Linked DNA regions of Homo sapiens. The protein of the gene in region 1 interacts with the protein of each later gene in a biochemical or structural test. Each region holds a gene or a part of one and is shown in the gene's direction. Other genes may lie near its edges. The genes, in order: NELFA and NELFB.

Evidence for each region.
Region 2: the proteins of NELFA (region 1) and NELFB form a complex in vitro, tested with the Homo sapiens proteins (one study listed by BioGRID).

What each region holds. Positions count from the first base shown.
Region 1 is NC_000004.12:1,995,080-2,009,987, reverse strand, and holds the start of NELFA (negative elongation factor A), read left to right. Parts: upstream 1-1,013; 5' UTR 1,014-1,028; coding exon 1,029-1,238; intron 1,239-1,941; coding exon of another isoform or gene 1,942-2,025; intron 2,026-14,908. Other genes in the region: uncharacterized protein LOC124900839, read left to right, coding at 227-982. UniProt on the Homo sapiens protein: Essential component of the NELF complex, a complex that negatively regulates the elongation of transcription by RNA polymerase II.
Region 2 is NC_000009.12:137,254,327-137,269,234, forward strand, and holds the start of NELFB (negative elongation factor B), read left to right. Parts: upstream 1-1,000; 5' UTR 1,001-1,039; coding exon 1,040-1,285; intron 1,286-1,580; coding exon 1,581-1,744; intron 1,745-2,002; coding exon 2,003-2,102; intron 2,103-2,497; coding exon 2,498-2,728; intron 2,729-8,710; coding exon 8,711-8,896; intron 8,897-9,918; coding exon 9,919-10,031; intron 10,032-11,550; coding exon 11,551-11,653; intron 11,654-12,004; coding exon 12,005-12,100; intron 12,101-12,617; coding exon 12,618-12,760; intron 12,761-12,913; coding exon 12,914-13,020; intron 13,021-14,908. UniProt on the Homo sapiens protein: Essential component of the NELF complex, a complex that negatively regulates the elongation of transcription by RNA polymerase II.

The sequences.
Region 1 (14,908 bases):
GCATGGCAGTGGAACAATAAGGAAAAGATCTTTTAAAAAAAAGATATAATACAGAAGCCAAGCAAGGCGGCCCCGACCTGTAACCCCAGCACTCTGGGAGGCAGAGGCGGGCGGGCGGATCGCTTGAGCCCAGGAGTTTGAGACCAGCCTGGCCAACATAGGAAGGCCTCGTCAAAAAGACAAAAGGGTAAAACGAATTTAATAAAATGAAGTTTAACTTTTACTCATGTTTGTATCTAATGACAAGCTTTTAAAACTGAAAAGTTCACTACTGGCTCCTGCCTGGCGGCTCCAGCCCGACTGGGGGCCGGGGCCTCCCTGCACTGTGGGGTCACGAGTGCCCCTGGACAGCTCCCGAGCGCCCTCCGACCCGCATGCTCAGCGCAGCCCCGTCGGCGGCGCGCCACGGGCAGAGCGGGCTCAGCGGGGGACGGAAGCTCAGCGCTGCGACCGGGATCCCGCAGGCTCGCTCCGCAGGGCCGCGGCTCCTCTCCGTGCAGGTGCTGGGCCCGCGGGGGCGGGGCGTCCACACGGTCCGCGCCGAGACCCAAGCGGGGAAAAAGCGAAGAGCGGACAGCGGGGCAGGTGCCACAGGGAGCCTCCGCCCCACCGCGCGAGCAGCAAGTCTGCGGCGCTTGACACCTGCACTGCGAATGCCAGGCCGCAGCCCGGGCTCCCAAGACGCGAATACGCGCGCCTGCTCGTGACGTCATTTTTTGCGGTCTTCCCGAGAGCCAGCAGAGGGCGCCGCCATGATGTTTTACGGAAGCCGATAGTCCTTGCTCAGCGGCACCCCGTCCTTCCGGCTCTCGGCTTTGCCACAAAGCTTCCCGAAGACGCGGCCGCTACCCGGAGACGCGGTCGCCACCCAGAAGCGCTCTCCCGGGAAGCCCCGCTCGTGGGACCGCGCCACCTGCGCCGCCTCTGCGGCCCGCAGCCCGACGGGCGCCGCCATGTTGGGGTCCTAGCGAGGGACGCGTAGGTGTCTTCATAAGATGCCGGGGCAGCGGCGCGCGCTTTCCCCCAAGATGGCGTCCATGCGGGAGAGCGACACGGGCCTGTGGCTGCACAACAAGCTGGGGGCCACGGACGAGCTGTGGGCGCCGCCCAGCATCGCGTCCCTGCTCACGGCCGCGGTCATCGACAACATCCGTCTCTGCTTCCATGGCCTCTCGTCGGCAGTGAAGCTCAAGTTGCTACTCGGGACGCTGCACCTCCCGCGCCGCACGGTGGACGAGGTAAGGCAGGCGTGGCGCCCCGCGGCCCCCAGATTCCCAACCTTCCCACCTCCGACCCGCACACCCAACTCCGGACCCTCCTCGCTCCCTCCCCCAACCTTCCCATCCCCCTTCAGACTGTTAACCCCCCCGGCCCGCCCTCACGCCCCCTCCTCGCTCCTCCGAATACCTCCCTCCAGTCCTCACCTCCCCCTGGGTCCTCATCCCCCGCCTCGATCCTCATCTCCCACCTCGGTTCTCATCCCCACCGTGGGTCTTCAGGACCCCCCGCCCCTCCTCGCCCCCTGGGAATCCCCCACTAGGGTCCTCACCTCCCTACTTTTCGTCCTCACCCCTACCCAAGTTTTCACCTCCCCTGGGATCCTCAATCTCCTCCCCGCCGGGCCCCGGGTTCTCGCTACGACCCCCAGGTCCTCACTCCCCTCCCTGGGCCCCCGGGTACTCATCCCCACCCGCCCCCGCCTCCCCCGCCTTCGGTCCTCACCACCCTAATCCCCCACCGTGCCGAAGCGACCGACTCTTGGAGCGGGGGTGCGCCGGCCCCAGCGGGGTCTCCCATCGGGGTTTCCCGTCGGGGACGCAGCCCTGGTGACCTGGGCGAGGGCGGGGATCCCGAGAGAAACCCCCGCGTGAGGAAGGGGCGGCCTGGGCTCGGTAGCTCCAGTGTCCGCTGACTGGATTTTCTTGTTCTCACCTCGCAAAGACCCCGGCCGTCCGGAGCGCTCTGTGTCCGTTTTACTCTTTTCTACACGCCGTTTTGCGTCATTCCAATAAGTGGGTGTGTGAGGTTTGTTTTCTTTTTTCCTAAACTTTATATTGTATCGCTTTCCGTGCGAAATAAACCGAGTAGTTTTGCAGACTATTGAAGCCCCATGGTTGTTTAAACGTTCCTGGCTACTGATGTATTATTAGCTATTATAGGTTGTAATTGCTTTTGATTGAGATATGACATGTATGGAAAAGTGCATTTTTGTTCAGTTTAACGAATAATAATAGCATCGCGAGCCACTCCTGTGATCCTTACACAGGTGGAGAAGTAGAACCATGCCTGTTCCTTGGAAGCCTCCCACTGGTAATCACGGCCTTCTTCCTTTCCCCTTCCTCATTTTGGAAAGGTAATCATTTCTGTGCCATCTCCCCGGTGTGAGCAATTATTTATGCACCCCTAAATGGCACAGCTTGGTTGCCGGATTTGGAGTTAGTGTGATGGTATCATAGTGTATTTTGTGTGTGGCGTGCATGTGTCTTTTTGGTCGACGCCGTGACAGTTTCATCCACGTTGCAGCTGACTGCAGTTTAATTTTCACTGCTGCGTGGTATTCCTGTCTGTGAGCACGAGGCACTTTATCCATTCTGCCACAGTGACACGCTTAGCTTTTGTGCTCTTGTAAATCATCCCGTTACTACATTACGGTCATATGTTCAGGTGTTTGGAATCTTGGATTTCTCTAGGGTATAACATCTAGGAGTGGAATTGTGAGGATCATAGGATCATGCCAAATTATTTTTCAGAGTGTTTTGTTTTTGTGTTTGTGTTTTGTTTGAGACAGGGTCTGGCGCTGTCAACCAGGCTGGAGTGCAGTGGCACCATCGTGACTCACTGCAGCCTTGACCTCCTCACCTCAGATCTTCCCATCTCAGCCTCCTGAGTAGCTGGGACTACAGGGTTTCACCATGCTGCCCAGGCTGGTCTTGAACTCCTGACCTCAAGCAATCTGCTTGCCTCAGCCTCCTGAAGGGCTGGGATTACAGGTGTGAGCCATGGCACTCGGCCTGCTGTTTGGTTTTCTGCTTTGAGAATTGTATATTCAAATCTGCTTTTAAATTCTCTTTTTTCCCATTGTTTTGTAAGAGTGTCTTTTTTATTATTTATTATAAATGCTAGATATCAGTCCTTTTTCAGTTACAAATATCTCCCAGTTGTCCTTTGACTTTGACTTAGCTTCCTGGAATCCTTTTTTTTTTTTTTTTTTTTTTTTTTGAGACAGCGTCTCACTCTGTCACCCAGGCTAGAGTCTAGTGGTATAATCATAGCTCACTTTAACCTTGAACTCCTGGGCTTAAGCAGTCCTCCCTCCTAAACCTCTGTAGTAGCTGGGACTGATGCGCTGCCACCACGCCTGGCTAATTTTTGTGCATGTGTATGGAGATGGGGGTCTTACTGTATTGCCCAGGCTGGTCTTGAACTCCTAGCCTCAAGTGATCCTCCTGCCTTGGCCTCCCATAGTGTTGGGATTACAGGTGTGATCTGTGCGCCCAGCCCTTTTCCTGGAATCATGGATGAATAGAAGCTCCTAGTTTTAACATAGATGGTGTATTCATCCGCCCACTATCATTGGTGCCTATTGTGTCTCCCCGAGGGACATGCCCGGAACACTCCCTGGGTTATCTTGGCGTAGCTGTACAGTTTTACCTTTCGCACTTGAATCTTCAGTCTGCGTGGAATTGATGATTGTGTGAAGCAGGGAGTCTAATTTTCCACATGGATGTGCAATTAGTCCAGCACCCAACGTTGATTGAAATGACTGTCCTTTTCCATTGATCTGCACTGCAGCTTCTGCTGTGGATGTGTTTCTGGGCTGTGCTCTGTTCTTTTGGTCATTTACATATCGATGTGCTAATAACCCACTAAGTCGGTTCTTGTCACTTTATTTATAAGCCTTGTTAGCGGACGGAGCAAACCCTCCCACTGTATCTTTCTCCGGGATCATCTATGGCTATTCTTGTCCCTTCACACTTCCACATGTATCTTATATACTTACTTCTTAAACACGTAGAGCCTGCCTGCTGGGATTTTAAGGCTGAGCTGAACTTGCAGTTCATTCTGGGGTGCTGTCCTCTTTATATTGCATCCTATAATTTGTGGGTGTGGGCTTATCTATTTAGATGTTCTTTGTGATCTCTGTAGGGGTCTTCCATCTCATATATTACCACCTATTTCATATTTTTCCATGCCGTTGTAAATGGTATCTGTTAAAGTCTTAGTTTTTACTTGTTGCTGGTATATAGAAATGCGTTGATTTTTGTTTTTGTTTGTTTGTTTGTTTGTTTGTTTTTTAGACGGAGATCTCACTCTCTCACCCAGGCTGGAGAGCAGTGGCGCGATCTCAGCTCACTGCAACCTCCTCCTCCTGAGCTCAGGTGATTCTCCTACCTTAGCTTCCCGAGTAACTGGGATTACAGGCATGCACCACCACACCTGGCTAATTTTTGTATTTTTAGTAGAGATGGGGTTTCACCATGTTGGCCAGGCTGCTCTCGAACTCCTGACCTCAGGTGAGCCACTATGCCCAGCCTGATTTTTGGATAATGAATTTGTGACTAGTATCTGTGCTAAAGTTTTGCTAGTTGCAAAATTTTTTTTTTCTATAGAATCTCCTTGATTTTTCTGTGCACTTCATATTATTTTTCTTTCTCCAATTACCTTTTGTTTTTTTTCTCGTCTCACTGGACTGGCTAGGACCCTCCAGCTCATTGTCTTACCTCCGATCACACAGGGAGAACTCGGAATGTTTTGCCAGTGAGCATTATGTTTCCTGTTGTCTTTAATAAATACCCTTTATCTAGTTAAGGAAATTCTCTTCTTAGAAGACTTGTAAAAAAAAATCTTTTAATCATGAATTTTTTTAAAATAGCTTTATTGGCTGGGTGCAGTAGCTCACACCTGTAATCCCAGCACTTTGGGAGGCCGAGGCGGGCGGATCACGAGGCCAGGAGATCGAGACCATCCTGGCTAACATGGTGAAACCCCGTCTCTAAAGAAAAAATACAAAAAAATTAGCCGGGCATGGTGGCAGGCGCCTGTAGTCCCAGCTACTAGGGAGGCTGAAGCAGAAGAATGCCGTGAACCCAGGAGGCAGAGCTTGCAGTGAGCTGAGATCGCGCCACTGCACTCCAGCCTGGGCGACAGCAAGACTCTGTCTCCAAAAAAAAAAAAAAAGCTTTATTAAAATATAATGTATAGCTGGGTGCAGTAGCTCATGCCTGTAATCTCAGCACTTTGGGAGGCCAAGATGGGCGGATTGCTTGAACCCAGGCATTCGAGATCAGCCTGAGCAATATGGTGAAACCCTGTCTCCATAAAAAATATAAAAATTAGCCAGGGGTGGCGGCACATGGCTGTGGTCCCAGCTACTTGGGAGGCTGTGGCGAGAGGATCACTTGAGCCTGGGAGGTTGAGGATGCGGCGAGCCATGATTGCATCACTGCACTCTAGCCTGGCCGACAGAATGAGACCCTGTCTCAAAAGAAAAAAGATATTATTTTATGTACCATATAATTATGCCAGGTAGTTCACCATTTAAAATGTACACTTCAGTAGTTTTTAGTATATTTACAGGTTTGATGGTCATGCTAGTCAATTTTCAAACATTTTCATCATCCCCCAAATAAATCCTACACTCATTAGCATTTGCCCAGTCCTCTTCCTCCCCACTCCTAGGTGACTAGTAATCTACTTTTTGCTTCTATAGATTTGTCTATTCAGGATATTTTATATAAATAGAATCATACATCTGGTCTTTTGTGCCTGACTTCTTTCACTTAATGTAATGTTTTCTTTTTTCTTCTTCTTCTTTTTTTTTCTTTTTTTTGAAACAGAGTCTTGCCCTGTCGCCAGGCTGGAGTGCAGTGGCGCGATCTCGGCTCACCACAACCTGCGCCTCCCAGGTTCAAGGGATTCTCCTGCCTCAGCCTCCCGAGTAGCTGGGACTAGAGACACGCGCCACCATGCCCAGCTAATTAGCTAATTTTTGTATTTTTAGTGGAGACGGGGTTTCACCGTGTTGGCCAGGATGGTCTCCATCTCTTGACCTTGTGATCCACCTGCCTTGGCCTCCCAAAGTGCTGGGATTACAGGCATGAGCCACTGCTCCCGGCCTTTATTTCTTCTTTAAAAAAAAAAAAAAAAAAAGGATGCATATGCAGAACATGCAGATTTGTTACATAGGTATACGTGTGCCATGGTTTGCTGCACCTATTGACCCGTCCTTTAAGTTCCCTCCCCTCACTCCCACCCCTATTAGGCCCTGGTGTGTGTTGTTCCCCTCTCTGTGTGCATGTGTTCTCAGTGTTCAACTACCTGCCACTTATGAGTGAGAACATGCAATGTTTGGTTTTCTGTTCCTTTGTTAGTTTGCTGAGGATGATGGCTTCCAGCTTCATCCATGTCCCTGCAAAGGACAGGATCTCATTCCTTTTTATGGCTGCGTAGTATTCCATGGTGTATATGTATCACATTTTCTTTATCCAGTCCATCATTGATGGGCATTTGGGTTGGTTCCATGTCCTTGCTATTCTAAGCAGTGCTGCAGTAAACATACCTGTACGTGTGTCTTTATAGCAGAATGATTTATATTCCTTTGGGTATATATCCAGTAACAGGATTGCTGGGTCAAATGGTATTTCTGGTGTTAGATCCTTGAGGAATCGCCATGCTGTCTTCCACAATGGTTGAACTAATTTACACTCCCAGCAAAAGTGTAAAAGCCTTCCTATTTCTCCACAGCCTCGCTAGCATCTATTGTTTCCTGACTTTTTAGTAATCACCCTTCTGACTGGCGTGAGATGGTATCTCATTGTGGTTTTGATTTGCATTTCTCTGATGATCAGTGACGTAGAGCTTTTCTTCATGTTTATTGGCCTCATAAATGTCTTCTTTTGAGAGGTATCTGTTCACCTCCTTTGCCCACTTTTTGATGGGGTTGTTTTTCTCTTACAAATATGTTTAAGTTCCTTGTAAATGCTGGATATTAGCCCTTTGTCAGATGAGTAGATTGCAAAAATTTTCTCCCATTCTGTAGGTTGCCTCTTCACTCTGATGATAGTTTCTTTTGCTGAGCAGAAGCTCTTTAGTTTAATTAGATCCCATTTGTCAATTTTGGCTTTTGTTGCTATTGCTTTTGGCATTTTTGTCATGAAGTTGTTGGCCGTGACTGTGTCCTGAATGGTATTGCCTAGGTTTTCTTCTAGGATTTTTATGGTTTTGGGTTTTACATTTAAGTTTTTAATGCATCTTGAGTTAATTTTTGTATGAGGTGTAAGGAAGAGGTCCAGTTTCAGTTTTCTACATATGGCTAGCCAGTTTTCCCAGCACCATTTACTGAATAGAAGATCCTTTCCCCATCGCTTGTTTTTGTCAGGTTTGTCAAAGATCAGATGCTGGTAGATGTGTGGTGTTATTTCTGAGGTCCCTGTTCTTCTCCATTGGTCTGTAGGTCTGTTGTGGTACCAGTACCATGCTGTTTTGGTTACTGTAGCCTTGTAAGTGTAGTTTGAAGTCAGGTAGCGTGATGCCTCCAGCTTTGTTCTTTTTGCTTAGGATTGTCTTGGCTATATGGGATCTTCTTTGATTCCATATGAAATTTAAAATAGTTTTTTCTAATTCTGTGAAGAATGTCAATGGTAGTTTGTTGGGAATAGCATTGAATCTGTAAGTTACTTTGAGCAGTATGGCCATTTTCATGATACTGATTCTTCCTATCCACGAGGATGGAATGCTTTTCCATTTGTTTGTGTACTCTCTTATTTTCTGTTTTTTCTTTTTTTTTCTGAGATGGAGTCTCGCTTTGTCGCCCAGGCTGGAGTGCAGTGGCGCGATCTTGGCTCATTGCAAGCTCCGCCTCCCGGGTTCACGCCATTCTCCTGCGTCAGCCTCCCTAGTAGCTGGGACTACAGGCGCCCGCCACCATGCCTGGCTAATTTTTTGTATTTTTAGTAGAGACAGGGTTTCACCGTGTTAGCCAGGATGGTCTCGATCTCCTGACCTCATGATCCGTCCGCCTCGGCCTCCCAAAGTGCTAGGATTACAGGCATGAGCCACCGTGCCTGGCCTTTTTTTTTTTCTTTTGAGACAGAGTCTCGCTCTGTCGGCCAGGCTGGAGTGCAGTGGCACGATCTCGGCTCACTGCAACCTCCGCCTCCCTTGCTCAAGCAGTTCTCCTGCCTCAGCCTCCCGAGTAGCTGGGATTACAGGCTTGTGCCACCACGCCCGGCTAATTTGTGTATTTTTAGTAGAGATGGGGTTTAACCACGTTGGCCAGGCTGGTCTCAAACTCCTGACCTCAGGTAATCTGCCTGCCTCAGCCTCCCAAAGTGCTGGGATTACAGGCGTGAGCCACTGCACCCGGCCCCTCTCTTATTTTCTTCAACAGTGGTTTGTAGTTCTCTTTGAAGAGGTCCTTCACATCCCTTGTTAGCTGTATTCCTAGGTATTTTATTCTCTAGTGATTTTGAATGGGAGTTCATTCATGATTTGGCTCTCTGCTTGCCTATTAAAATCACATTGATTTTGTATTCTCGGACTTTGCTGAAGTTGCTTATCAGTTCAACAAGTTTTTGGGCTGAGTTGATGGGGTTTTCTAAATATAAAATCATGTCATCTGCAAACAGAGACAACTTGACTTCCTCTCTTCCTATTTGAATACTCTTTATTTCTTTCTCTTGCCTAATTGCCCTGGCCAGAACTTCCAATACTATGTTGAATAGGAGTGGTGAGAGAGGACATCCTTATTATCTTGTACCAGTTTTCAAAGAGAATGCTTCCAGCTTTTGCCCATTCAATATGGTATTCGCTGTGGGTTTGTCTTAAATAACTCTTAATATTTTGAGATACGTTCCATTAATACCTAGCTTATTGAGAGTTTTTAACATGCAGGGATGTTGAATTTTATCAAAGGCCTTTTCTGCATCTGTTGAGATGATCATGTGGTTTTTGTCTTTGGTTCTGTTTATGTGATAGATTATGCTTGTTGATTTGCGTATGTTGAACCAGCCTTGCATCCCAGGGATGAAGCCACTTGATCGTGGTGGATAAGCTTTTTGATGTGCTGCTGGATTCGGTTTGCCAGTATTTTATTGAGGATTTTCACATTGATGTTCATCAGGGATGTTGGCCTGAAGTTTTCTTTTTTGTTGTCTCTTCCCAGTTTTGGTATCAGGATGATGTTGGCCTCATAAAATGAGTTAGGGAGGAGTCCCTCCTTTTCAATTGTTTGGAATAGTTTCAGAAGGAATGGTGCCAGCTCCTCTTTGTATTTCTGGTGGAATTCAGCTGTGAGTCCGTCTGGTCCTGGGCTTCTTTTGGTTGGTAGGTTGTTACTGCCTCATTTTCAGAGCTTGTTATTGGTCTAGTCAGGGATTCGACTTCTTCCTGGTTTAGTCTTGGGAGGGTGTATGCACCCAGGAATTTATCCATTTCTTCTAGATTTTCTAGTTTATTTGTGTAGAGGTGTTTATAGTATTCTCTGATGGTAGTTTGTATTTCTGTGGGGTCAGTTGTGATAGCATCTTTATTATTATCATTATTATTATTTGGTGTCTATTTGATTCTTCTCTCTCTTCTTTATTAGTCTAGCTAGCATTCTGTCTATTTTGTTAATTTTTTCACAAAACCAGCTCCTGGATTTGTTGATATTTTTTGGGGGGGAGGGTTTTTCGTGTCTCTATGTCCTTTAATTCTTGTCTGATCTTAGTTATTTCTTGTTTTCTGTTAGCTTTGGGGTTAGTTTGCTCTCTTGCCTCTCTGGGTCTTTTAATTGTGATGTTAATTACATCTCTGGGTCTTTTAATTGAGATCTTTCTAGCTTTCTGATATGGGCATTTAATGCTATAAATTTCCCTCTTAACACTGCTTTAGCTGTGTCCCAGAGATTCTGCTACATTGTCTCTTTGTTCTCATTGGTTTCAAAGAAATTCTTGATTTCTGCCTTAATTTCATTATTTGTCCAGGAGTCATTCAGGAGCAGGTTGTTCAATTTCCATGAAATTGTGTGGTTTTGAGTGAGTTTCTTAATCTTGAGTTCTAATTTGCACTGTGGTCTGAGAGACTGTTATGATTTCAGTTCTTTTGCATTTGCTGACTTCCAGTTAATTACATGGTCGATTTTAGAGTAAGTGCCACGTAGCACTGAGAAGAATGTATATTCTGTTGATTTGAGGTAGAGAGTTCTGTAGATGTCTACTAGGTCCACTTGATCCAGAGTTGAGTTCAAATCCTGAATATCCTTGTTAGTTTTCTGTCTCGTTGATCTAATATTGACAGTGGGGTGTTAAAGTCTCCCCCTATTATTGTGTGGGAGTCTAAGTCTCGTTGTAGGTCTGTAGGAACTTGTTTTATGAATCTGGGTGCTCCTGTATTGGGTGCATATATATTTAGGATAGTTAGCTCTTGTCGAATTGTTCCCTTTACCATTGTGTAATACCCTTCTTGTCTTCTTTGATCTTTGTTGGTTTAAAGTCTGTTTTGTCAGAAACTAGGATTGCAACCCCTGTCTTTTTGTTTGCTTTCCATTTGCTTGAAGTTTCCTCCATCCCGTTATTCTGAGCCTGTGTGTGTCTTTGCGTGTAAGATGAGTCTTCTGCATACAGCACACCAATGGGTCTTGACTCCTTATCCAATTTGCCAGTCTGTGTCTTTTAATTGGGGCATTCAGCCCATTTACATTGAAGGTTAATATTGTTATGTGTGAATTCGGTCCTGTAATCATGATGGTATCTGGTTATTTTGCACACTAGATGCAGTTTCTTTGTAATGTCATTGGTCTCTATATTTTGGTGTGTTTTTTCAGTGGCTCGTACTGGTTTTTCTTTCCATATTTAGTGCTTCTTTCCAGAGTTCTTCCGGGGCGGGGCTGGTGGTAACAAAATCCCTCAGCATTTGCTTGTCTGAAAAAGATTTTATTTCTCCTTCACTTATGAAGCTTAGTTTGGCTGGATATTAAATTCTGGGTTGAAAATTCTTTTCTTTAAGAATGTTGAATATTGGCCCCCAAACTCTTCTGGCTTGTAGAGTTTCTGCAGAGGTCTGCCATTAGTTAGTCTGATGGGCTTCCCTTTGTAGGTGACCTGGCCTTTCTCTCTGGCTGCTCTGAACAGTTTTTCCTTCATTTCGACCTTGGAGAATTTGATGATTATGTGTCTTGGGGTTGATCTTCTCATGGAGTGTCTTAGTGGGGTTCTCTGTATTTCCCAAATTTGCATGTTGGCCTGTCTCTAGGTTGAGGAAGTTCTGGATAATATCCTTAAGTGTGTTTTCCAGCTTGTTTCCATTCTCCCCGTCTCCTTCTGGTACTCCAGTCAGTAGTAGGTTTGGTCTTTTTATGAAATCCCGTGTTTTTTGGAGGCTTTGTTCGTTCCTTTTCATTCTTTTCTCTCTATTGTTGTCTGCATGTCTTATTTCAGTAAGGTGGTGTTCAAACTCTGATATCCTTTGTTCCGCTTTGTGGATTCGGCTGTTAATACTTGCGGATGACTCATGAGGTTCTGGTGCTGTGTTTTTCAGCTTCATCAGGTCATTTATGTTCCTCTCTAAACCGGTTATTCTAGTTAGCAATTCCTCTGACCTTTTATCAAGGTTCTTAGCTTCTTTGCATTGGGATAGAACATGCTCCTTTAGTTCATCATTGTTTTTTTTTTTATTACCCATCTTCTGAAGCCTACTTCTGTCAGCTCGTCCATCCAATCCTCCGTCTAGTTCTGCGCCCTTTTTGGAGAGACATTGTGATCATTTGGAGGAGAAGAGGCACTCTGGCCTTTGGGGTTTTCAGCATTTTTTCGTTGATTCTTTCTCATCTTCGTGAGTTTGTCTAGTTTCAGTCTTTGAGGCTGCTGACCCTTGGATGGGGGCTTTTGTTGTGGTTGTTGTTGTTGTTGTTGATGCTGTTGTCGTTTTCTGCTCGTTTGTTTTCCTTGCCGTAGTCATGTCCCTCTTCTGTAGGGCTGCTGCAGTTTGCTGGGGGTTCACTTCAGGCCATATTCATCTGATTCACTCCCATGCCTGGAGGTGTCACTAAAGGAGGCTGCAGAACAGCAAAGATGGGTGCCTGCTCCTTCTTCTGGGACCTCTGATCTCGAGGGGCACCAACCTGATGCCAGTAGGGTCACTGCTGTATAGGGTGTCTGACAACCCCTGTTGGAGGGTCTCACCTAGTTGGGTGACATAGGGAGCAGGACCCATTTAATGAAGCACTTTGTCCCATGATGGAGGGAGTGTGCTTCAGTGGGGGGAAACCACTTGTCTGGGCTGCCCAGGTTATTCTATATTTAACATTTTGAGAAATTGCCAAACTATTTTCCATAGTGGCTACACCATCTTACTTTCTCCATAGTGATTTTCGAGTGTTCAGTCTCTCACATCCTTGCCAACATTTGTTATCTTTTTGATATAGCGATCCTAGTGGGTGTGAGCACAAAGGAACTTTAAATTTTATCAAATGCTTAAATATCTATTGACATGTAATTCACCACATTAACAAAATAGCTTTAATTATAAACCAACCTTGCATTCCTGCGGTAAACCTAAATTGGTCATTTTATGTTGTTAGATTATATCATCCTGATGTTTTGTATAGGAATTTTGTACTATATCTTTGTTCTTGGGTGAGATTGACCTGTAGTTTTACTTACCCAGACTGTCTTTGTTGGATTTTGGTATTGGGGTTATGCTACCCTTAAAAAAGGATTTGTAATGTATCTGGTCTTTTCTTTTTCTTTGGAAAGTTTGTTTACTAATGGAGTGATTTCTTCCTAAATATTTGGTAGAACTTGGTAATGAAGCCTTCTGGACCTGAAATTTACTTTGTGGGAGGATTTTTCAGTATTGATTTTTGTTTTTATGGGTTTTGTTTTTTTTGTTTGTTTTAATGCATAGTGTCACTGTCACTCAGGCTGGAGTGGCAGTGATGTGATCATAACTCACTGTAACCTTAAACTCCTAAGCTCAAGTGATCTCCTGCCTCACCTTCCTGAGCAGCTAAGACTGCAGGCATGCACCACCATACCTGCCTACTTTTCTTTTTTTTTAAATTTTTTGTAGAGAGAGTGTCTCAAATACCCTTCTGTCATCGAGGCTGGAGTGCAATGGTGCAATCTTGGCTCACTGCAACCTCCACCTTCCAGACTCAAGTGATTATCGTGCCTCAGCCTTCTGAGTAGCTGGGATCACAGGCGTGTGCCACCATTCCCGGCTAATTTTTGTATTTTTAGTAGAGACAGGTTTTTGCCACGTTGGCCAGTCTGGTCTCAAGCTCCTGACCTCAAGTGATCCACATGCCTTGGTTGACCAAATTGCTGGGATTACAGGCATGAGCCAATATGACCAGCTCAAACATCTTCTTTTTAAATGTCAGAAGCATGTATAGTGATTATTTCTTATTTTTTCCCCCTTGATCCATCTCACCAGATGTTTGTTGATTTTATAAGAATTTTCAAACTACCAGCTTCTGGCTTTGTTGAACTTGGATTTCTGTTTCACTAATTTTCTTTCTCCTGTCTTTGTACTTACTTTGTTGCTCTTTTTCTAAGTTTTAAAGATGGATGCCAATCTCAGGCTTCTTTTCGTGTGTGTATGTGCGTATGTCCATAAATTCTCTTCTAATTACAGTGTAAGCCGCATCCCACAAGTTTTGATAGTCACAGAACTGTATCGTCACACTATTTTTTAATTTCAGTAAGTTCTTCACTGATCCCTGTGTAATTTAGAAATGTTTCATAATTTCCCTACATTGGAGGGGAAGATAGTTTTGTTTTTATTATTAATTTCTAGCTGTATTGAGCTCTTGTCAGAGAATATGGTTTATTTTAGTCGTTTGAAATTTAAGATCTGCTTAATGGCAAAATGTATGGTCAGTTTTTGTAAATGTTGCCAGTAAGCTTGCGAATCATATGTACTCTAGTTTTGAAATCCATTGCTCAGTGGATGTTCATTAGGCCAATTTGTATAATCATGTTGTACAAATCTATTCTATTCTTAACTGTTTTTTGTTTTAAAGGTGTGGGGTCTTACTATGTTGCCCGGGCTGGACTCAAATTCCTCAGCCTCCCAAGTATCTAGAACTACAGGCACGTGCAGCTTGGTTTAAAAAAAAAAAAAAAAATCAGTGAGAAGAGGATTTGTTGATCTCCCCGTTAGGATTATGGGTTTGTCTGTTCCTCCTTCTCAGCTTATGCTGTATATATTTTGGGGCTGTGTTATTAGGTGCATCCAAGTGTATAGTTGTTATAGTTACCATGTGAGCTCAACCTTGGATCTTTACATAGAGATTCTCTGTATTTAGTAATGTTTTGTTCTTAAAATCTGCTTCCATCTAACATTAATATAAATGTACCAGCTTTATTTTATATGTATGTTTCTTGGACTTTGTCTTTATGTATTACAAGAAATTGTGATAAAGACCTCATTTAACTGGATTGTGAAAGGACTAGGCCATTCTGGGTCATTTACTTTTCTGAAAAATATTTTTATTTTCTTGGTATTTAAAAAAAGGTTTATAAGACATTCTAATTTATCTTAGTTTTCTTCCTTCATTTATTTAGGGGTCTGGTATCTTAGGGATATCATTCTGAAAATTAAACTTTTCTACATAGGACCATAGATACAGGGTGACTAGATGACTGGGCTGGATGTGTTCCACAGTGTATCAGTCAGGGTTCTCCAGAGAAACAGAACCAAGAGGGTATATAGACACATACATGCACACACACCAGGAGAGCCAGTGATGTAAGCCCTGAGACTCAAGACCCAGGAAGAGCTGATGTTTCAGCCAGAGTCTGAAGGCTGGAAAAGACCAATCTTCCAGCTCAAACAGGCAGGAGTTCCCCTTACTCAGCATTTTTGTTCTGCTTTGGTTTTCAGTTGATTGGATGAGACCCACTCAGCAGTAGGGAGGGCCCTC
Region 2 (14,908 bases), on another chromosome or scaffold:
GCTGACCAACTTGGCCAGCGGCAAGAGAGCTGTGGTAGCCATGGCCTTGGGAGCTCGGCCCGGCTTGTGGGAACAGGAGCTCTGCTCACGGCTGCACCACCAGGCACCCCTGGTGAGACCCAAAGCTAGGAGTGGGAGCGGCAGGAAAGATGGAGCGATCTCCTCCAGCTGGGCTGAGGAGGGAGGGCTTCCTGGAGGAGGTGGTGGAGGAAGAAGCCTTCAAGGAAGAGCAAGAGTTTGCTGGGCAGCGGGAAAGAAATTTCTAGAGAAAATTTCAGCAGCGGAGACCGAAAAGAGAGAGGGTGTGTGTAGGGGGCTTGGCGCGGCACAGCCTGCGGGAGGGCGGCGGGCTGGAGAGGCGGGGAGGCCCGGGGAGCCCACCCGCCTGGGATAAGAAGGGACACTGTGGAACCTGGACTCTCCTTCACGGCTCCGCGGAGCTCGGTGGGCGCCACAGCCTCCCGGTGCCTGGGAGGGCGGCCGTCGCTCGCGCTCCCGCTGCGGGCCCGGTCTCCGCCAGGCCCCGGCCCCCTGAAGGCGCTCAGATCTCAGTTTTGGCGACAGCGCCGGGGTGGGCTTCGTGCCCGTTTCACGCGGAGGAACCCACGCTCAGGAGGGAGTCTGCGCCTGTGTCCGGCCCCTGCGGGGCAGAGGGGCGGGGAGCTCAACCCCCGGCAAAACGTCCCCGCTGCGCGTGGCTGCCGCGAGATCTGCAAGAGCGTTTTCCACGCTTATGTACACGAAATTCACTCGGCTGCGACGACGTCCGTTCCCGGAGCAGACGGACCCTGAGTCCGCCCCCCACGCCCTCACCCGCCCTCTTCTGCCAGAAAGCCCGGGCGCGGGCGGGACCGGGTGGGCGCATGCGCGCTGGGCTGGCTGGGCGGGGTCTCTCGCGCCGGGTGAGGGCGCTGCTCCCAGGAACCTGCGCGCGGCCCCGGCGGCGTTTCCCGGGGGCCGGTTGGCGGGCGGACCTGGGCGGTGCGGGGCGGAAGTGGGCGGCTGCGGGACGCGCGCGGAGTCGCGCGGCGGGCGGGACCTGGCCGAGCTGGAGGGCGCCGGGGAGCGGGGCTCGGGCGGTCCCCGAGGCCCGGCGGAGCGGGCTTCTGGGGTGTCTGCGGCGGCGCCGGGGGAACGGGCTGGGGATGGGGCGCCTAGCCGGGCGGTGGCCGGGGCCTCGGCCATGTTCGCGGGGCTGCAGGACCTGGGCGTGGCCAACGGCGAGGACCTGAAGGAGACCCTGACCAACTGCACGGAGCCGCTCAAGGCCATCGAGCAGTTCCAGGTGGGGCGGCCCCCGGGGCGGGGGGAGCCCAGTTGGAGGGCCGGGCCGCCTGCTCGGGAGTCGGGCCTGGCGGAGGCGCCGGAAGTTTTCCGGCTTTCTGCTGGTGGCTGAGTCCTGTTCTGGGGGTGGAGTCCGGAGCCAGCACCCCTTTGCTGGACGGCTGGGTGGCTTTCGGTGGCTGCGGTTACCGCCAGCACGGCTGGGAACACCTGGGTGCGTGCCTCCCTGTGCTCTCAGGACCTCGGGGTGCCCGGGCGCACTGGGCTGCGTTTGAGGTTTCTCTTGGCTTCCTCAGACAGAGAATGGTGTGCTGCTGCCATCTCTTCAGTCAGCCCTCCCCTTCTTGGACCTGCACGGGACGCCGCGGCTGGAGTTCCACCAGTCGGTATTCGATGAGCTGCGGGACAAGCTGCTGGAGCGAGTGTCAGCCATCGCTTCGGAGGGGAAGGCTGAGGAAAGGTGGGTCAGCGGGAGGGGTGGGCAGGTGAGATGTGCAGCCGGCCTCTCAGCCTTGGATCGACTCAGGGGCATTTATTGTCCTTTTGGCTCCACATCCTTGCTCCCAGAGGTGGCCTGGGCCTGTGTCTGAGTGACCCCTTGACCCATGTGTCCTGGGCGTGGAGGCTTGTCCTGGTAGCTGTTATCTGTGTAGGGACAGGCAGGTAGCTGCTGCGATTTGGCGCATCGCTGCACCATCAATCCTGTGAGTTGTTCCAGGTACAAGAAGCTGGAAGACCTTCTGGAGAAGAGCTTTTCTCTGGTGAAGATGCCGTCCCTGCAGCCCGTGGTGATGTGCGTCATGAAGCACCTGCCCAAGGTAGGGCCCTAACCCTAACCCTGATGGCGTGGACCGTCCGCCCACTCTCATGCCCTTGGTTAGTGGAAGTTCCGGTGGCCGCCTAGCTCCGGGAGCTTCCTGTGCTGCCTGCCCAAGTGCTGTCCATGGTGAGCTCTGTGCTGACTTCTCCCACATGAGCCGCGTGGAGACCGAACCTTAGCACTGGAGTTAGGGTGTGGGGCCCCTCCTGGGAAAGAGCTGTTGGTATTTAGCATGTCTGTCTGACATGCTGGGGCCGGGGAACCAGTCATAGGTGCCCTGTGGGGTGGAGCTTAGCTCGAGGTGGTCTCTGCGGGGCTGAGGCCTCTTGGCTTGTCTTGAAGGAGACCCAGGGACACAGGTGCCACTCACAGGCAGCCTGTGGTGTCATGTAGGTTCCGGAGAAAAAACTGAAGCTGGTTATGGCTGACAAGGAGCTGTATCGAGCCTGCGCCGTGGAGGTGAAGCGGCAGATCTGGCAAGACAACCAGGCCCTCTTCGGGGACGAGGTTTCCCCACTCCTGAAGCAGTACATCCTGGAGAAGGAGAGCGCTCTCTTCAGTACAGAGCTCTCTGTCCTGCACAACTTTTTCAGTCCTTCCCCCAAGACCAGGCGCCAGGGCGAGGTGAGGGGACAGGCCGTGTGCGGGGTGGGGCACCTCTTGGGGATGCCACGGCTAGCGCCTTCAGCTGCCTGGGGATCAGCACTCTGCTGCCCTGTGAATGATCGGGTGGTTCTGCTTCTTGGCTGGGTGGTGGGGGAGGGCTGGCTTGTACACATGCTGGAAAGAAAGTTGGTTGTTTTTCTGTTTGCATTTTACTTTTCGTTAAAGTGATATATGGACAACATTTAAAATCTGCGGAAAGCCCGCTCATGTGAAGTTAATCCCCCCTCCCCTACTTTTTTTCTTTTTCTTTGAGACGGAGTCTCGCTCTGTTGCCCAGGCTGGAGTGCAGTGGTGTGATCTCGGCTCACTGCAAGCTCCCGGGTTCACTCCATTCTCCTGCCTCAGTCTCCCGAGTAGCTGGGACTACAGGCGCCCGCCACCATGCCTGGCTAATTTTTTTTCTTTTTCTTTTTTTTTTTTTTTGAGACGGAGTTTCGCTATTGTTGCCCAGGCTGGAGTGCAATGGCGTGATCTCGGCTCACTGCGACCTCCGCCTCCCAGGTTCAAGCAATTCTCCTGCCTCAGCCTCCCGAGTAGCTGGGATTACAGGCATGCATCACCACGCCCGGCTAATTTTGTATTTTTAGTAGAGATGGGATTTCTCCATGTTGGTCAGGCTGGTCTTGAACTCCTGACCTCAGGTGATCCGCCCCCCTCGGCCTCCCAAAGTGCTGGGATTACAGGGGTGAGCCACCGTGCCTGGCTTTTTTTCTTTTTTTTTCTTTTTTAAGAGACAGGGTCTCACTCTGTTGCACAGGCTGGAGTGCAGTGGCGTGATCACGACTCGCTGCAGCTTTGACTTCCTGAGCTAAAGTGATCTTCCTGAGTAGCTGGGACCACAGGCACGTGCCACCACACTGGGGCTACTTAAAAATATATATATATTTTTGTAGAGGTGGGGTCTGGCTATGTTGCTCAGGCTGGTCTTGAACTCCTGGGCTGAAGCGATCCTCCCACATCAGCCTTCTAAAGTGCTGGGATTACAGACATGAGGCACCATGCCTAGCCGAGATTTGTTGGGGTTTTTTTTTTTTTTTTTTTTTTTGAGACAGGGTCTCACTCTGTCACCCAGGTTGGAGTACAGTGGTGTGATCGTGGCTCACTGCAGCCTCGACCTCCTGGACTCAAGCAATCCTCCTACCTCAGTCTCCTAAGCAGCTGGGACCACCGGTGTGTGACACCATGCCTGGCTAATTTGTATACTTTTTGCAGAGTTGGTGTTTCGCTGTGTTGCCCAGGCTGGTCTCGAACTCCTGGGCTCAAGTAATCTGTCTGCACACCTCAGCCTCCTGAAGTGCTGGGATTATAGGTGTGAGCGACCACAACTGGTTGTGAGATTTTTTAATTAGCCAATTTTTTTTTTTTTTTTTGAGACAGAGTCTTGCTCTGTCACCCAGACTGGAGTGCAGGGCCTCAATCTCGGCTCACTGTAACCTCTGCCTCCTGAGTTCAAGCAATTCTCCTGCCTCGGCCTCTCGAGTAGCTGAGACTACAGGCGCGCCCCACCATGCCTGGCTAATTTTTTTATTTTTTTGTTTAGTACAGACAGGGTTTCACCATGTTGACCAGGCTGGTCTTGAACTCCTGACCTCAGGTAATCCGCCCACCTTGGCCTCCCAAAGTGCTGGGATTACAAGTGTGAGCCACTGCGCCCGGCCCTAACCAACTTTAAACTAGCACTGTTCAGTGGAAAAAGCGAACTATAAGTTAAGATTTTTCAGCATCCACATTAAGAAAAAAAAATGAGATCAACTTCATTAATGTTTTCTTTGGTCCAGTATATCCAAAATATTATCTTTCAGCATGTAATTCATGTGAAAGATTGGGCTGGGTACGGTGGCTCACGCCTGTACTCCTAGTACTTTGGGAGGCGGAGGTGGGAGGATCGCTTGAGCTTAGTAGTTAAAGACCAAAGGGAGACCTTGTCTCTACAAGAAAAAAAAATTAAGCTAAGCATGGTGGTGCGTACCTGTTGTCTCAACTACTCAGGAGGCTGAAGCAGGAGGATTGCTTAGGCCTCGGATATTGAGGCTGCAGTGAGGTATGATTGAGCCACTGCACTCCAACCTGGGCGACAGAGTGAGAGATCCTGTCTCAAAAGGAAAAAAAAAATATTGAGCTATAATGCTTTTTGCGGGAGGATCACTAAGATTTGAAACCTGGTGAGTCTTTCATGCTTAGAGCCCATCTGAACTACTGCACTTCAAACGCTGAGCAGTTAGTGTGGCTCTGGGTTCCCTTCGGGCCGTGGTTCCTGACCATGTGCGTGGGCAGCAGCAGGCTTGTTGGGGGTGGCAGTGCCACCTCTGTCCTCCCTTCCCTGTTTGTTTATTCCCAGTTAGGTCCTCCATGGGCCTTTTTCTTGTTCCATTGCTGTCAGACAGAGCCCTTGGACCCCTCTGCTAACTGTGGGGTGCCCTGCATTTCCCAGGCCTTTCTCCTATCGCCTGTCTCTTCTGGTGACTTGGTGCTGCCTATACTGATTTCTGTCTGTAAGGGAAATCAGTCGGCTTGGTCGGCTTAGTCCTAGGTTGATTCTCTTTTATTTTTATTTTATTTTATTTTATATATTTTTATCTTGTTTTATTTTACTACTTTTTAAAATTTATTTTTTATTTTTTTATTATTTATTTATTTATTTTTTTGGAGACAGAGTCTTGCTCTGTCACCCAGGCTGGAGTGCAGTGGCACGATCTTGGCTCACTGCAAGCTCCGCCTCCCGGGTTCACTCCATTCTCCTGCCTCAGCCTCCCAAGTAGCTGGGACTACAGGCGCCTGCCACCATGCCCGGCTAATTTTTTGTATTTTTTTTTTTAGTAGAGACGGGGTTTCACAGTGTTAGCCAGGATGGTCTCAATCTCCTGACCTTGTGATCCACCTGCCTCAGCCTCCCAAAGTGTTGGGATTATGGGCGTGAGCCACCGTGCCTGGCCTATTTTTATTTTTATTTATTTTATTTTATTTTATTTTTGAGACAGAATCTTGCTCTGTTGCCCAGGCTGGAGTGCAGTGGTGCAATCTCGGCTCACTGCAAGCTCCGCCTCCCGGGTTCACTCCGTTCTCCTGCCTCAGCCTCCCGAGTGGCTGGGACTACAGGCGCCCACCACCACGCCCAGCTATGTTTTTTGTATTTTTAGTAGAGATGGGGTTTCACCATGTTAGCCAGGATGGTCTCGATCTCCTGACCTCATGATCCACCCGCCTCGGCCTCCCAAAGTGCTGGGATTACGGGCGTGAGCCACTGAGACCGGCTATTTTATTTTATTATTTTTTTTAATTTTTAAAATTTATTTTTTAAAATTTTTTTTATTTATTTTATTTTAATTTTATATTTTGTTTTATTTTATTTTAGTTTGTTTTATTTTTTTTTTTTTGAGACGTAGTGTCCTTCTGTTGCCCAGGCTGGAGTGCAGTGGTGTGATCTCAGCTCACTGCAACCTCAGTCTCCCAGGTTCAAGTGATTCTCCTGCCTCAACCTCCCGAGTAGCTGGGATTACAGGCACCCACCACCACGCCCGACTAATTTTTGTATTTTTAGTAGAGATGGGGTTTCACCATGTTGGCCAGGCTGTTCTCGAACTCCTGGCCTCAGGTAGTCCACCCACCTTGGGCTCCCAATTTGCTGCAATTACAGGTGTGAGCCACCGTGCCCAGCCCGATTCTCTTTTAAAAAGCTAAATTAGGCCGGGTGCGGTGGCTCACGCCTGTAATCCCAGCACTTTGGGAGGCAGAGGTGGGTGGATCACGAGGTCAGGAGTTCGAGACCAGCCTGACCAACATGGTAAAAACCCATCTCTACTAAAAATACAAAAATTAACCAGACCTGGTGGTGTGCGCCTGTAGTCCCAGCTACTCAGGAGGCTGAGGCAGGAGAATCACTTGAACCCGGGAGGTGGAGGTTGCAGTTAGCCAAGATTGCGCCACTGTACTAGGCGACAGAGTGAGACTCAGTCGCAAAAAAAAAAGCTGGGCGCAGTGACTCACGCCTGTAATCCCAGCACTTTGGGAGGCCGAGGCGGGTGGATCATGAGGTCAGGAGATCGAGACCATCCTGGCTAACATGGTGAAACCGCATCTACTAAAAATACAAAAAATTAGCTGGGCGTGGTGGTGGGTGCCTGTAGTCCCAGCTGCTCGGGAGGCCGAGGCAGGAGAATGGTGTGAACCTGGGAGGTGGAGCTTGCAGTGAGCTGAGATCACGCCACTGCACTCCAGCCTGGGTAACAGAGCACGACTCGGTTTCAAAAAAAAAAAAAAAAAGTAAAAAAAAAAAAAAACTGGGTCAGGTGTGTGGCTCATGCCTGCAATCCTAGCACTTTGGGAGGCCGAGGTGGGTGGATCACCTGAGCTCAGAAGTTCAAGACCAGCCCGGGCAACATGGTGAAACCCCGTCTCTACTACAATACAAAAAATTAGCCAGTCATGGCAGCCGGCGCCTGTAATCCCAACTACTTGGGAAGCTGAGACAGGAGAATAGCTTGAATCCGGGAGGTGGAGGTTGCAGTGAACCAAGATCTTGCCATTGCACTCCAGCCTGGGTGACAGCGCAAGACTCCGTCTCAAAAAAAAAAAAAAAAAAAATTGATTGGGTGTAGGGACCAGCCCCACAGGGTTGATGGGTTTTTCTCCCCGTGTGCGGAGATGAGAGATTGTAGAAGTAAAGACACAAGGCAAAGAAATGAAAAGACAGCTGGGCCCGGGGGACCATTACCACCAAGACGCGGAGACTGGTAGTGGCCCCGAATGTCAGGCTGCGCTGATATTTATTGGATACAAGACAAAGAGGCAGGGTAAAGAGTGTGAGCCATCTCCAATGATAGGTAAGGTCACGTGGTTCACGTGTCCGCTTGACAGGGGGCCCTTCCCTGCCTGGCAGCCTAGGCAGAGAGAGAGAGAGAGGAGAGAGAGAAACAGCTTACGCCGTTATTTCTGCGTATCAGAGACTTTTAGTACTTTCACTAATTGACTACTGCTATCTAGAAGGCAGAGCCAGGTGTACAGGATGGAACATGAAGGCGGACAAGGAGCGTGACCACTGAAGCACAGCATCACAGGGAGACGGTTAGGCCTCTGGATAACTGCGGGCAGGTCTGACTGATGTCAGGCCCTCCACAAGAGGTGGAGGAGCAGAGTTTTCTCTAAACTCCCCCGGGGAAAGGGAGACTCCCTTTCCCTGTCTGCTAAGTAGCGGGTGTTGTTCCTTCACATTTTTCGCTACCGCTAGACCCTGGTCCGCCTGGCAACGGGCGTCTTCCCAGATGCTGGCGTCACCGCTAGACCAAGGAGCCCTCTGGTGGCCCTGTCCAGGCATAACAGAAGGCTCGCACTCTTGTCTTCTGGTCACACCTCACTATGTCCCCTCAGCTCCTATCTCTGTATGGCCTGGTTTTTCCTAGATTATGATTGTAGAGCGAGGATTGTTATAATATTGGAATAAAGAGTAATTGCTACAAGCTAATGACTAATATTCAAATATAATCATATCTATGATCTATATCTAATATAACTATTCTTGCATATTTTGTTATACTGGAACAGCTCGTGCCCTTGGTCTCTTGCCTTGGCACCTGGGTGGCTTGCTGCCCACAGTTGGGTGTCGTGGCATGCAATTGTAGTCCCAGCTACTTGGGAGGCTGAGGCAGGAGGATCACTTGAGCCAGGAGGTCAAGGCTGCAGTGAGCCACAGTTGCAGCAGTGCACTCGAGCCTGGGCAACAGAGCAAGGCCTTGTCTCAAAAAAAGTAATAAAAAAAATAAAAATAACAGAACCTGCTACCATCAGACTGGGGGCCAATATTTAATGAGAGGAGGGAATGTTTTCTGCCAAAAAGTAGGAAGGACAGATGTCCAGAGAGAGGGCCGCGCTGTCGCCGGGCGTGACGTCCCTGTGTCTGGCGGAGCCCAGGACGGTCTGGGGGCCTGACAGTGCCTCTTGCTGCAGGTGGTGCAGCGGCTGACGCGGATGGTGGGGAAGAACGTGAAGCTGTACGACATGGTGCTGCAGTTTCTGCGCACGCTCTTCCTGCGCACGCGGAATGTGCACTACTGCACGCTGCGGGCTGAGCTGCTCATGTCCCTGCACGACCTGGACGTGGGTGAAATCTGCACCGTGGACCCGTGCCACAAGGTAGCACTGCCCTCCCTCCTTCCCCCCTACCCTCCTGAAGGTAGTGCTGCCCTCCCTCCCTCCTTCCCTCCCACTCCCCGGCCCTCCCTCCTTCCCCCACTGCCCTCCTGAAGGTAGCGCTGCCCTCCCTCCCTCCCTCCTTCTCCCTTCTCCCCCGCTCCCCGGCCCTCCCTCCTCCCCCTCCGCCCTCCTGAAGGTAGCGCTGCCCTCCCTCCCTCCTTCCCCCCAACTCCCCGGCCCTCTCTCCTTCCCCCTCTGCCCCTCCTGAAGGTAGCATTGCCCTCCCTCCTTCCCCCTGGCCCTCCTGGCTCCTCTCCTCTCCGTGGGTTTGGCTTGGCCCGGGACCACCTGGGCGCCCTTCTCTCCCATGCCTGTTTCCTGGGCTCTGGTCTTTCTGTCCTGTGTGCTGGCCCTTTGGCTTCTCTCCAGACCCTGATGGGGGAAGGAGGCTAGTCCCCTGCATCTGAGCCAGAGACCTGGCCGTTCCCGGGGACTCCCTTGCCCCGTCCAGCCCTTTCTGTGTTCCCGAGGGCTGTATGACCTACGGGCTGGACCTTGACCATTGCCCCAGCTTCCTCCCATCTTTCCACCTGGCCTGTGGCCCTCCCCTTCCCCAGAACCCTGGGTGCTGCTTGTTGGCCAGGTACCAAGTGCTCTAGGAACGGGGTTTCCCTTCATACGGACCCTCCAGCCCTGAGACCATCTTTCCGGGACTTGGGAGTCACCCTCCGAGGCTTCCATTGCTTGGAGTGCTGCAGTGGCCACCCCCACACTCAGGGTGCCATGAAGGAGTCCGTTTTTAGAAAGAAACATCATCACTTTCTCCACCACTGTCCTGACCCTGCTGCTTTGGCCGGGAGGTGTGGGGAACACTGCACCGTCAGGATGACTGGTGCCTGCTGCCGCCCCCCGCAGCAGCTATGATTGAACAAGAGGCCAGGGCCTGGAGCTGTGTTTGGGGCCTGGGTCTCTGGTCATCCTGGGAGGTTTGGGCTGGTCCCGACCGTGCTTCCTCCTTGCAGTTCACCTGGTGCCTGGACGCCTGCATCCGAGAGCGGTTCGTGGACAGCAAGAGGGCGCGGGAGCTGCAGGGGTTTCTCGATGGCGTCAAGAAGGGCCAGGAGCAGGTGCTGGGGTGAGGGTCGGCTCCACGAGGCCTCTGCCCCTCAGGGCCCTGCGTGCATCCGGTCTGCGCTTGCTGTGTTTTGCCGTGGGTAGCAGGCGTTTATTCCCGGATATTGCTTTTTCTTTTGTTTTTTTCGAGACAGAGTCTCGTTCTGTAGCCCAGGATGGAGTGCAGTGGTGCAATCTCTGCTCACTGCAACCTCCGCCTCCTAGGCTTAAGCCATTCTCCTGCCTCAGCCTCCCAAGTAGCTGGGATTACAGGCACGCGCCACTGCGCTCAGGTAATTTTTGTATTTTTTAGTAGAGACAGGGTTTCACCATGTTGGCCAGGCTTGTCTTGAACTCCTGACCTCAGGTGATCCACCCGCCTCAGCCTTCCAAAGTGCTGGGATTACAGGCATGCGCCACCGTGCCTGGCCTCCTGGATGTTTCAATAGAGCTATGCCGGGCACTGCTGGCCCACAGCTTAGGGACATGGTTGTCGGGATGTGTGTGGGTAGCAAAGTCTCCCTCCTCAACTCTGCATTCTGGAGCCAGGCCCAGGGGCTGGGGTCTGGTGTCTGCAGTGGCGTGGGGTCAGCCTCTGAGCTGAGGGGCATCCATTGGCATTTGCTTTCCAGCATCCTCTGGCTGGTGTATAGACACAGTGCTGCCTGGCCCTGCCTTTGCCACTTTTTTTCTTCCTTTTTTTTTTTTTTTTTTTTTTTCTGAGACAGGGTCTCTGTCACCCAGGCTTTAGTGCAGTGGTACAGTCTCCCTCAACCTCCTGGGCATTGATCCTGCTGTCTCCGCCTCCCAAAGTGCTGGGATTACAGGCACACACCAGTGCGCCTGGCCGATTTTTGTTATCTTTAGTAGAGATGGGATTTCACCACCTCGCCCGGGCTAGTCTCAAACAAACAATCCACCGGCCTCAGCATCCCAAAGTGCTGGGATGACAGGCGTGAGCCACCACACCCAGCCTTTTTTTTGTTTGTTTTTTTAACTTTTTAATTTGAAAAATCTTTGAATAGGTTAAGGACAAATTGCAAACCTTAAGCTTTTTTTTTTTTTTTTTTTGAGACAGAGTCTCGCTCTCTTGCCCAGGCTGGAGTGCAGTGACGCGATCCTGGCTCACTGCAAGCTCTGCCTCCCGGGTTCAAGTGATTCTCCTGCCTCAGCCTCCCGAGTAGCTGGGACCACAGGCGACCACCACCACGCCCGGCTAATTTTTTGTATTTTTGGTAGAGACAGGGTTTCACTTTGTTAGCCAGGCTGGTCTCAGTCTCCTGACCTGGTGATCCATCCGCCTCGGCCTGCCAAAGTGCTGGGATGACAGGCTGAGCCGCCGCGCCCGGCCTGCCAAAGTGCTGGGATGACAGGCTGAGCCGCCGCGCTCGGCCATCCTTAAGCTTTTTGTAAGAAACCCAGCATGTGATGGGCACCCGCTGCCAGTCCTGAATTCAGCCTAGGCCACCCCTCCTGAGGACTGTGCCGCTGAAGGGAGGGGCAACAGGCGTCGCATTAATGCCAGGGCGGCCTCCTTCCAGGGACCTGTCCATGATCCTGTGTGACCCCTTCGCCATCAACACGCTGGCACTGAGCACAGTCAGGCACCTGCAGGAGCTGGTCGGCCAGGAGACACTGCCCAGGGTGAGTGTGGGCTTGGCCAGCAGCTGTCGGGGCCATGCGGCCACTCCGCTGGCTGCTCTGGGTGGTCAGGGTGTGGACAGCAGCGGCCAGGTGGAGGCAGCTGTTGGGGCCCTGTGGCCGCCCTGCTGGCTGCTCTGGTGGTCGGGGATGTGGACTGCAGTGGCCCAGGTAGAGGCGTGTGCTTCCCCGCTGTGAGACTGCGTTTCACCCCGTGTGTGGGGCTGGTGATCGCAGTCGTGTGGTCCTGGCCATGGGCACCAGAGATCCTGCTGAGTAACGAGTAGGGTCAGAGGAGCTCCATGGCCAGGACACAGCTGCCTGGGAGAGGCGCTGAGCCCGTCCTCCCTACAGGACAGCCCCGACCTCCTGCTGCTGCTCCGGCTGCTGGCGCTGGGCCAGGGAGCCTGGGACATGATCGACAGCCAGGTCTTCAAGGAGCCCAAGATGGTAACGAGCCTCCTGTGGGGGCTGCCAGTTTCCTACGAGGGGTTGTGGGCTGGAAGTGGGGTGGAGGGGGAGGCGCTAGCAAGGTGATTGTGGAGGCCCCTTTGGTCCCAAAGCTTCCTTCCTGGAGCTGCCCACCTTCCTTTTGGGAAAATGCCCACCAGGGAGGTTCTGGGGTGTCTCCGTGGACCCTGGCTGGTTCTGGGGTATCTCCATGGCCCGTGGCTGGTTCTGGGGTGTCTCCGTGGACCGTGGCTTGTTCTGGGGGTGTCTCCATGGACCATGGCTGGCCACAGGTGGTGACTACTCCATGTGGGTCCAGACCTAGAAGGGGGTTTGAGGAGATGGCCTGGGTGGGGGACTCGGGAGGTGGGAAGAGGGACCTGGGGACCTGGAGAGGAGGGAGGGTCGGTGAGGTATCTGGGGGAGTGGGAGGGCCAGGGGCAGGGTGTGTGTCACGTCAGGGTGGGGTGGGGCAGGGCCCGGGCCCGCGCCCGCTCATGGCCTCCCCTCCTCGTAGGAGGTAGAGCTCATCACCAGGTTCCTCCCGATGCTCATGTCCTTCCTGGTGGATGACTACACTTTCAATGTGGATCAGAAACTTCCGGCTGAGGAGAAAGCCCCAGTCTCATATCCAAACACACTTCCCGAAAGCTTCACTAAGTACGGGCTGTAGGGCCATGGTGCAGGGGTGGCCGTGGCGCAGGGATGGCACTGTTGCCCAGGGGGCTGCCTCAGGGCTGGGCAGGGGTCGGTGTGGGGCTGAGGTGGGGCTGAGGTGGGGCTGAGGTGGGGCTGATGGCGCCCCGGGCGCAGGTTTCTGCAGGAGCAGCGCATGGCCTGCGAGGTGGGGCTGTACTACGTCCTGCACATCACCAAGCAGAGGAACAAGAACGCGCTCCTCCGCCTGCTGCCCGGGCTGGGTAAGTCCTGACGGGCGGTGCCTGGCTGTGTCTTCCCTGCGGCAGCTGCCGTATGCAGTCCTGCCCAGGGTGCGGGCCCCAGGGCCCCCAGGAGCTGCCTTGTCTCCCCAGCCCACCTCCAACTTTGCTAGCTTTGTTTTCACCTTTTTTTTTTTTTTTTTTTTGAGATGGAGTCTTGCTCTGTCGCCCAGGCTGGAGTGCAGTGGTGCAACCTCAGCTCACTGCAGCCTCTGCCTCCTAGGTTCAAGTGATTTCTCGTGCCTCACCCTCCTGAGTAGCTGGGATTACAGGCGCGTGCCACCGTGCCAGGCTAATTTTTGTATTTTTAGTAGAGACGGGGTTTCTCCATGTTGGTTGGGCTGGTCTCGAACTCCTGACTTCATGATCCGCCCGCCTCGGCCTCCCAAAGTGTTGGGATGACAGGTGTGAGCCACCACTCCCAGCCTCGTTTTCACTTTTACTTTTGTTTGTAGTTTATTTTACTAGGAAAGGGAGAGGGAGTTCAACTTTGTGCTTTCCCACAAAAAGGTGATGTAAGAGCTGTCTTTATTTCATCCTAACTGGCGAGGGGCTTGGGACCCCTCAGGTGCTCAGAGAATGGAGCAAAGGGGAGGGAGAGAGATCCCCTGCCCCAGTGCCCCACCCCAGGTGGTGACAGGCCCACTTCCTCCTGGGGGCCTTGACGGGGGAGGGGTTGTTGCAAGCCAGGAAGAAGAGGAAGGGTCCAAATGGGCACCTTCAAGAGTAGAGCTGCAGGTCCCCTGGGAGATGGGGCCTCTTTAGCCTGCTGTGGGTCCCATGGGAGATGGGGCCTCTTTAGCCTTGCGGTACCCACTGTGACACAGACCCTGGGCTCTTCCTTGCTGACTCAGGCCTTGTCTGGGGTTTGCTGTCTTAGTCCACGTTATGCTGCTCTAACAGAGACTTGAGACTGAGTAGTGTAGAAAGGGCAGGGACGGCCGGGCACGGTGGCTCAGGCCTGTAATCCCAGTGCTTTGGGAGGCTGAGGCGGGCGGATCACGAGGTCAGGAGTTCGAGACCAGTCTGGCCAACATGGTGAAACCCTGTCTCTACTAAAAAAATACAAAAATTGGTTGGGCATGGTGGTGGGTGCCTGTAATCTCAGCTACTTGGGAGGCTGAAGCAGGAGAATCCCTTGAACCTGGGAGGTGGAGGTTGCAGTGAGTGGAGATTGCACTATTGCACTCCAGCCCAGGCGACAGAGCGAGACTCCGTCTCAAAAAAACAAAGAGCAGGGACTTCTCCCAGTTCTGCGGGCTGGGATGGGAAGTCCGAGGTCAAGGGGCCTGCATCTGGCTGGGGCTTTTTGCTGTGTCATCCCATGGTGGAAGGCAGAGGGCAAGAGAGCACGGGCAGGGGAGACAGACAGACACAGACAGAGATGAGAGACAGAGACACACAGACCAAGATGAGAGACAAAGATGAGAGACACAGAGACAGAGATGAGACACAGAGAGATGAGAGACAGGTAAGAGAGACAGAGACAGGAGAGACATGGAGACAGACAGATGAGAGACACAGGACAGAGACAGATGAGAGACAGAGCTAGAGATGAGACACAGACAGACGGAGACAGAGAAGGGGCCACACTTACCCTTTTATCAGGAGCCACTCCTGTGCTAACAGCGAGAACGCTTTGGTGAGGACGGAGCCCTCACGACCTCAGCAGTGTTGCGTTGGGGATCAGGTTTCCGATGGTGAACTTGGGGACACGTCCACACCACAGCACGTGCCTATTGTGTTTCTCGGTGGCTGGTGTGTTTGAGGATGGCGCGTGCATGCGTTTTCCAGCTTTCTTTGTGGAGGAAGTTACCTGTGGGTATTAACCTGTCCCCAGCCATCCTCTCACTGAGCTTGGGTTGCCTGG